Linked DNA regions of Homo sapiens. The protein of the gene in region 2 purifies or fractionates together with the protein of the main gene of each other region. This does not show direct contact. Each region holds a gene or a part of one and is shown on either strand. Other genes may lie near its edges.

Evidence for each region.
Region 1: the proteins of SPDYA (region 2) and CLIP3 purify together in Homo sapiens (affinity purification with western blotting; one study listed by BioGRID). This does not show direct contact.

Annotation. Positions count from the first base shown.
Region 1 is NC_000019.10:36,030,519-36,034,432, forward strand, and holds the start of CLIP3 (CAP-Gly domain-containing linker protein 3), read right to left. Parts: upstream 2,356-3,914; 5' UTR 2,206-2,355; intron 2,118-2,205; exon of another isoform or gene 1,898-2,117; 5' UTR 1,840-1,897; coding exon 1,674-1,839; intron 1-1,673. UniProt on the Homo sapiens protein: Functions as a cytoplasmic linker protein. Involved in TGN-endosome dynamics. May modulate the cellular compartmentalization of AKT kinase family and promote its cell membrane localization, thereby playing a role in glucose transport in adipocytes.
Region 2 is NC_000002.12:28,827,655-28,831,468, forward strand, and holds part of SPDYA (speedy protein A), read left to right. Parts: intron 1-1,493; coding exon 1,494-1,665; intron 1,666-3,814. UniProt on the Homo sapiens protein: Regulates the G1/S phase transition of the cell cycle by binding and activating CDK1 and CDK2.

The DNA.
Region 1 (3,914 bases), on a different chromosome or scaffold from region 2:
TATCTTCCAAATTCCCCTCCTACATCCAACTCTGGCTGCACTCCATCCCCTTCTACCCAGTACCCAGAGGGAGCTTTCAAACTACAAATCAGACCTGCCACTCCTCTGCTCTTAAACACCCTCCCCTTGCCACTCTTCTCCCCTGTCCCACTTAGAATATAACCAAAGTCCTCACTGTAGCCTTGAAGGCCCTTCCAGATCTGGCCTATGCCAACCTCTCACCTCAACCTCGATCATTCCCTGAATGCAGCTCCAGGATCTTTCTGTTCCAAGTTCAATTCTGCCTCAGGGCCTTTGCACTTGCTGCTGTCTGCCTGGAACACTCTTTTTCCAGCTCTCTTATGGCTGATTCCTCCCCATGCTCTGGGTCCCAAACTAAATGTTACCTACTCAGAAAGAGCAGCCCTGACTACCCCTGCAGGTAGCTGCCCCCTAGTCATTATCGTATCTCCACCTTTAATTTCTTTTTCTTTTTTCTTTTTTTCTTTTCTTTTTTTTTTTTTTCTTTTTTTTTTTTTTTTTTGAGACAGTCTTACTCTGTCACTCAGGCTGGAGTGTAGTGGCTCGATCTTGGGCAACCTCTGCCTCCCAGGTTCAAGCGATTCTACTGCCTCAGCCTCCCGAGTGGCTGGGATTACAGACATATGCCACTATACCCAGCCAATTTTTGTATTTTTAGTAGAGATGGGGTTTCACCATGTTGGCCATGGCTGGTCTCAAACTCCTGACCTCAGGTGATCCGCTGGCCTCAGCCTCCCAAAGTGCTGGGATTACAGGCGTGAGACACCATGCCCAGCCCACCTTTTCTTTCTTTCATAGCACTTGCTCCAATCTGAATTTATCTGATTTCTGATTTATTTATCTGTTCACTTGTTTAGTCTCTCCTTCTCTCCTGCAAGGGAGGATCATGCCTGGATCACTTAGGATTAAATCTCCGGCACCCAGCATAAGGCTTGTCACAGAGTAGCAGCACTCGATAAATATCGCTCGGTCAATGATTAGACACTTTCAGTTTCTCCAAGAGGCCGCCCTCTCAGCTCCATACCCTCCTACCTCAGATCCTTTACCCAGCGGTTACCTCTCCTGGGAGCCCTTTCCCCTGACCCTTCTCTTAGTTAACCCCAACTCACCCTCCAGTCTTCTCAACTGTAACCTCCTCAGGGAAACAATGTCTTAAAAAACTCTTGCAGCAGCTTGTTTATGGTAAATACAATTTTCATAATGTCTTGTAATTACATATTTATATTACATTATATTTTTCTTTCTTGCATATAAACCTAAATGTGAAAAATTACATTATGGTTTAATACCTATTTGTGTGGCTGTTACTGAGGCCTGTGAGTTGTCTCAGGGCAAAGACTGGGTCTCTCTTGCCCCCTGCTGTGGCCCCAGCCCCTAGCATAAAGCCAGGTCCACAGCCGCTTTCAAAAAATGATTGTTGAATGACTAAATGATGGAATGATGTGTCATGAGTCAAAGACTAGGAGTATTACAATTCCATTCTCCAATGGGTGAATGAATGAATTAACGAGGGGTGCTCTGCAGCCAAGATTCCTCTGGACCACCTTCAAATTCCCCAGAATTCTCCCACCATCACCACCAGCAGAGCACAGCCCACCCTCCCCGGCCACCCAACGCTCCAGGCCAGATTCCAGGGTGGGGACAGTGGTTACCGTAGTCCTTAGGGAGGGGGGCAGGTGCCGAGGGGTGCACAACAGGCTTCTGCCGGCGCTCCTGGGTGGGGCTGGGGGCCTCGGGGACGGGTTCATCCTCCTCCTCCTCTTCTTCCTCCTCTCCTCGGGGTGGCGGGGCCATCGGGGCAGGATCTGTCTTAGTCATGGTCCTCGGTGGCCCTCGGGGGGCGGGTGCAGAGTTGGGGGCAGCCTTCAGGCAAATCCTGGAGGCAGAGGTCAGCTGGAGAGGGTGCCCGGCAGGCTCCAGGGTCCAAGCCCCTAGGAGCTTCCAGGGCCCCGGGTGGCCTCCGCGCAACTGGATCTTGGGCAACCATAGGGACCCCCGTTACCCATAGAGGGCCCCGGTGTGTGCGCCCAGCGCCTGCCACCTCCCCCAGGCCCAGCCCCCCATTCTTCTCCTCCCGCGTCAGGCCCCTCAGTCGCGGCTGCCCCCTCCCCGGGTTTGTTTATCTCGGGATTCAGGATGCTTCGCCCCTCCCCTTCTCCGCGGGCCGCCCCCTCCCCATCTTACCTCGGGCAGACAGCGCTGGGGACCAAAGTGGAGACTGGGGAGACTGTGGGAGCAATGGGGTGTCGGTGTCAGGGGACGTGATGGGGGAGGCAAGGGAGACAGAGAGAAGGGGACGAGGCCCAGACGCCGACAGGGGGTGGGGGCGGAGAGGGAGGGGCGCGACTGCGCATGCGCCTGCTGCCCCCCTACCGGCGGCGGGGGAGGAGGGACCAGGAGGAGGGACCGGGAGGCGCTCGCATTGATGGAGGGGCCAGAGGCGGCGACTGAAAGGGGAGAGCCTCCGGGCACTGGGAGAGGAAGAGATGGCTACGGAAAGGAGCGAGATGAGCAGATACAACGGCAAAAGAGAGGGCTGAGAGAGCGGACACAGATCTTCTCCATCCCCTTCCCCCACGCCTGCAAACCAGGCCGGTGAGGGCAGTGGTCTTGGGGCGTGGTGACGATGGGGACCCTCTAGGGGACCCTCTCTCTAGGACCCTAGACCGGACCCCTTCTCCAAGCTCACCATTCATAATGGGTGCCTCAGAGGGGTGATTTCCTAGAGACTCCTATCATGATCATCTCATCCTTACCATCATAATGCGAGGCTCACACACTGGGGCCCAGAGGTTAAGCAGCTTGCCCAAAAGTACATGAGTAGGTGATGGAGCGAACATTTGAAACCAGACAGTCTGTAAAGTCTGATTTTTATTTTTATTATTTCCTAGACAGGGTCTCACTCTGTCACCCAGGCTACTGTGCAGTGTTGTGATCTTGGCTCACTGCAGCGTCAAACTTCTGGGCTCAAGCCATCCTCCCACCTCAACCTCCCGAGTAGCCGAGACCACACGTGCATGCCACCATGTCTGGAGAATTTTTTTTGAGACAGGGTTTTGCCATGTTGCCCAGGCTGGTCTTGAACTCCTGACCTCAAGGGATCCTCCTGCCCCTGCCACCCAAAGCGCTGAGATTACAGGCACGAGTCACCATGCCCAGCTTTGATTCTTAATCACCATGCTACATGCCTGTAGCAGTGTCTGGGAAACAGATCTGCCGATTGACCCCTCCAACTCTCTCAGAACCTGTATCTTCCCCACGGAGGCCTCCTGAAGCCAGCCCAGGGTCCTGGCTCCATTGTCATGGCTTGGCTTCCCACCTGGAGCTGTAGCCTGCTCTGCCTCAAATCATCCCAGCCTGGATGGGGCTGGGTGACAGCCTTGAACACCTCATCCTTCTAATGCACAGGTCCAGTAGCTCCATCTCCAAAAGATTTCCAGGATCTCACTCTCCCCACCGCTACCCTGGGCCCTCATCTTGGTCCATCCTTCTTCTTCTGCCACCAGCACTACGGCAGCAGCCTCTTACCTGCTGTCCCCGTCCTCCTCCAACATGCAGCCACAGGGACCCATGAACACCTGTCACTTTGGAGCCCTCTTTCCCTCAGAGGGGTCTGCCTGCTGCACCTCACTCCAGGTAGAAGCCAAGGCTCTCAGCCATGGCCCACAAGGGCCTATGTGAACCTGCCCCATCATCTCTGCACTCACCTCCTCTCACCCTCTTTTGTTCACTCCACCCCAGCCACACTGGCCTCCTTGCTTCTCCCTACCCCAGGACCTTTGCACTGGCTCTTTTTTTTTTTTTTTTTTGAGATGGCAGTCTCACTGTTCCCCAGGCTGGAGTGGAGTGGCATGATCTCTGCTCACTGCAACCTCTGTCTTCCAGGTTCAAGT
Region 2 (3,814 bases):
TGAGTACTTTTAAGATTTACTCTTTATCACTGGTTTTGAGCAATTTGATTGTGGTGTTCACTGGTTTAATTTTCTTCATGTTTCATGTGCTTTGAGGTTCATTGAACTTCTTTGTAGGTTTATAGTTTTTATTAAATTTCAAAAACTTTCAGCTGTTACTCCTTCAAATGTCTTCTGTCCACCTCATTTTCTGTCTGCCCTATTCAGATTACAGTGCATTGAAAGAATCCTTCATTGTTATTGATACTGGCCTTCAGAGTCTCCAATTCCGCCTGTTTCTTGAAGTCCCACATCAAACTGATGCTGTGTTTATTTTTTCTTATTTTTTTCTTTTTTCTTTTTTCTTTTTGAGACAGAGTCTCCCCGTCACCCAGGCTGGAGTGCAGTGTTGCAATCTCGGTGGCTCACTGTAACCTCTGCCTTCCGGGTTCAAGCGATTCTCCTGCCTCAGCCTCCCAAGTAGCTGGGATTACAGGCGCAGGCCACCACGCCCAGCTAATGTTTGTATTTTTAGGAGAGATGGGGTTTCACTGTGTTGGCCAGGCAGATCTTGAACTCCTGGCCTCAAGCAATCCGCCCACCTTGGCCTCCCAAAGTTCTGAGATTACAGGAGTGAGCCACCACGCCCGGCCCTCATCTTGTGTTTATGATTTTTGTTTCTTTTTTCTCTGTGTATTTCATCTTGAATACTTTCTATTGTGTCTTCAATTCACAGATGTTTTCTCTGTAATATTTAATCTGCCATTAATCCCAATCAGTGTATTTTTCATTGTACACATTGTAGTTTTCATCTCTAAAAGTACATTTTCAATATGTCTACTTAACTTTTTGAACATACAGAATAGTTATAACTGTTCCAGTGTCCTTATCTTTTATGTCAACCATGGGTATCAGTTTGGGGTTGATTTTGATTAGTCGCCTTATGATGAGTCATGTTTTCCTGCTTCTGTGCATGCCTGGTCCCCATCAAGCATTCAGCAGAATGCTGAGTTTCATATGTGTATAAGAAAATTACCTGAATCTGAGGAAAGATGTTAAGAAAAGATTAGGAGGAATACTGCCTAACATTCACATACGGCTGCAAATAGTGGCTGTTCCCACCAGCCAGGCTGAAAAGATTCATAATTCATGGAGCATTGAGAAGAGTACTCAGGAAGGTCTTGCCTCAGTAGTGAGGAATAACTAGCCCCAGACTGAACATTGTTCCAGATCCACCTAAAAAAATCATAAAAGCAACATCTGAAAGAATCAGACTATTTCAAAGTAACTAACTGCATCCCAGAACAAAGCTCAAGATTTGTAGGAATAAGAAATACCTAGAACCCAACAAGGTAAAATTAACTACATGTATCTCTATTTTTGAACTGCATTTCTTTAATTAACGTTGAACACCTTTCATGTGTTTATAAACCACTTTTATGTCTTGGTGTATGTGAACTACCTGTTTCTGTCCTTTACCCATTTCTTTTTTGGGTTGTGATCTTCTTTGTTAGGTATCTGGCTAATACAGTTGAAGAAGATGAAGAAGAAACCAAGTACGAAATTTTTCCATGGGCTTTAGGGAAAAACTGGAGAAAATTGTTCCCTAATTTCTTAAAGTTAAGGGACCAGCTCTGGGATAGAATTGACTATAGGGCTATTGTAAGCAGGCGATGTTGTGAGGAGGTAAGAATTTTAAAATGCTTTATATATGTAATCTTTGTTTTCTGTTTATCTTATTATCCTTGTTTTTTAATGTGCTTCTAATGTTTTGGTATTCTGGGTTTTTTTTTTTTTTCTAATATGTGGAGTAGACCATTGATCATTACCATGAATACAACTTGTGTATTACAATGTTGCTGTCTTATTATCACCATAACTAAAAACTGTCAACCGGGCAAGCCCTGCTCACGCCTGTAATCCCAGCACTTTGAGAGGCTGAGGCGGGTGGATCTCCTGAGGTCAGGAGTTTGAGACCAGCCTGGCCAACATGGTGAAACCCCATTTCTACTGAAAATACAAAAATTAGGCTGGGTGCGGTGGCTCACGCCTGTAATGCCAGCACTTTGGGAGGCCGAGGCGGGCAGATCACGAGGTCAGGAGATCAAGACCATCCTGGCCAACATGGTGAAACCCGTCTCTACTAAAAATACAAAAAAAATTAGCCGGGCGTGGTGGCAGGCGCCTGTAGTCCCAGCTACTTGGGAGGCTGAGGCAGGAGAATGGTGTGAACCCAGGAGGCGGAGCTTGCAGTGAGCAGAGATCGCGCCACTGCACTCCAGCCTGGGCGACAGAGCGAGACTCCATCTCAAAAAAAAAAAAAAAAGAAAAGAAAAGAAAAAGAAAAATACAAAAATTAACCAAATGTGGTGGCTGGTGCCTGTAATCCCAGCTACTTGGGAGGCTGAGGCAGGAGAATCACTTAAACCCAGGAGGCAGAGGTTGCGGTGAGCTGAGATGGTGCCACTGTACTCCAGCCTGGGCAACAGAGCGAAACTCCATCTCAAAAACAAACAAACAAATTGTCATTTCTATTTTTCAGAGCAGCCTACTTCTATAGTAAGTACTTTTTTTTTTTTTTTTTTTTTGAGACAGAGTCTTGCTCTGTCACCCAGGCTGGAGTGCAGTGGTGCGATCTCTGCTCACTACAAGCTCCGCCTCCCGGGTCCACGCCATTCTCTTGCCTCAGCCTCCCAATTAGCTGGGACTACAGGCGCCCGCCACCATGCCTGGCTAATGTTTTGTATTTTTAGTAGAGACGGGGTTTCGCCGTGTTAGCCAGGATAGTGTCAATCTCCTGACCTTGTGATCCGCCCGCCTCGGCCTCCCAAAGTGCTGGGAGTACAGGCGTGAGCCACCGTGCCCGGCTTATAGTAAGTACTTTTATTTTAGTGTATTTCTTCTGTCTAAAGGATCATCAATATATTGAAAAAGGGTGATATGAACAAACCAAAATATCTTATTTAGGATTACAATAACACTGGAGTTGAATAATAATTTCTGCTCAATAAAGTATGTGAAATTTCAGGTTCCCAAAATTGAAACACTATTTAACACATATATTAAATGGTATACAATTTAAATATTCTTTAAAATCATAACTCTTTTCACAAAGAATATATTGTTTCCTTAATGCCAAATCTTTTAGGATAAATCAGCAAGACACTAAAAATTTAATAATCAGTTATTTTACCAAATGTTCTGGTTTTTAATAAAGTCACTATTTCAAACCACAGAAAAATTCTAGAGTAGAAAATTAAATGGAAAGCAGTGGTCACTGTAAGCTCTAGTATTAGTTAAGAAAAATTTGATAAATGTTGATATACTTGCAAATCTTAAGATTTGATAGAATTAACTTATTCATTAATATACATTGATTTAGTGAGCACTTAGTAAATACATACCAGAAACTATATTATTTCTTTTAATTTAAAAAGGGCAGGCAGGCATGGTAGCTCACACCTGTAATCCCAGCACTTTTGGAGGCTAAGGTGGCCTGGATCACTTGAGTCCAAGAGTTCAAGACCATCCTGGGTAACATGGCAAAACACTGTCTCCACAAAAAATACAAAAAATTAGGTAGGCGTGGTGGTGCACACCTGTAGTCCCAGCTACTTGAGAGGCTGTGGTGTGAGAATCACCTGAGCCCAGAAGATTCAGGCTGCAGTGAGCCATGATTATGCCACTGCCCTCCAGCCTCAGCAACAGAGCAAGACCCTGTCCCAAAAAATAAAAATAAAAAAGGCTTGAAGCAAAAATAGCAGTATTACATCTATTAATTCTAGGCAGTAGGGATATGGATGTTTGTTATATTATTCCTAATGCTTTTTCATAA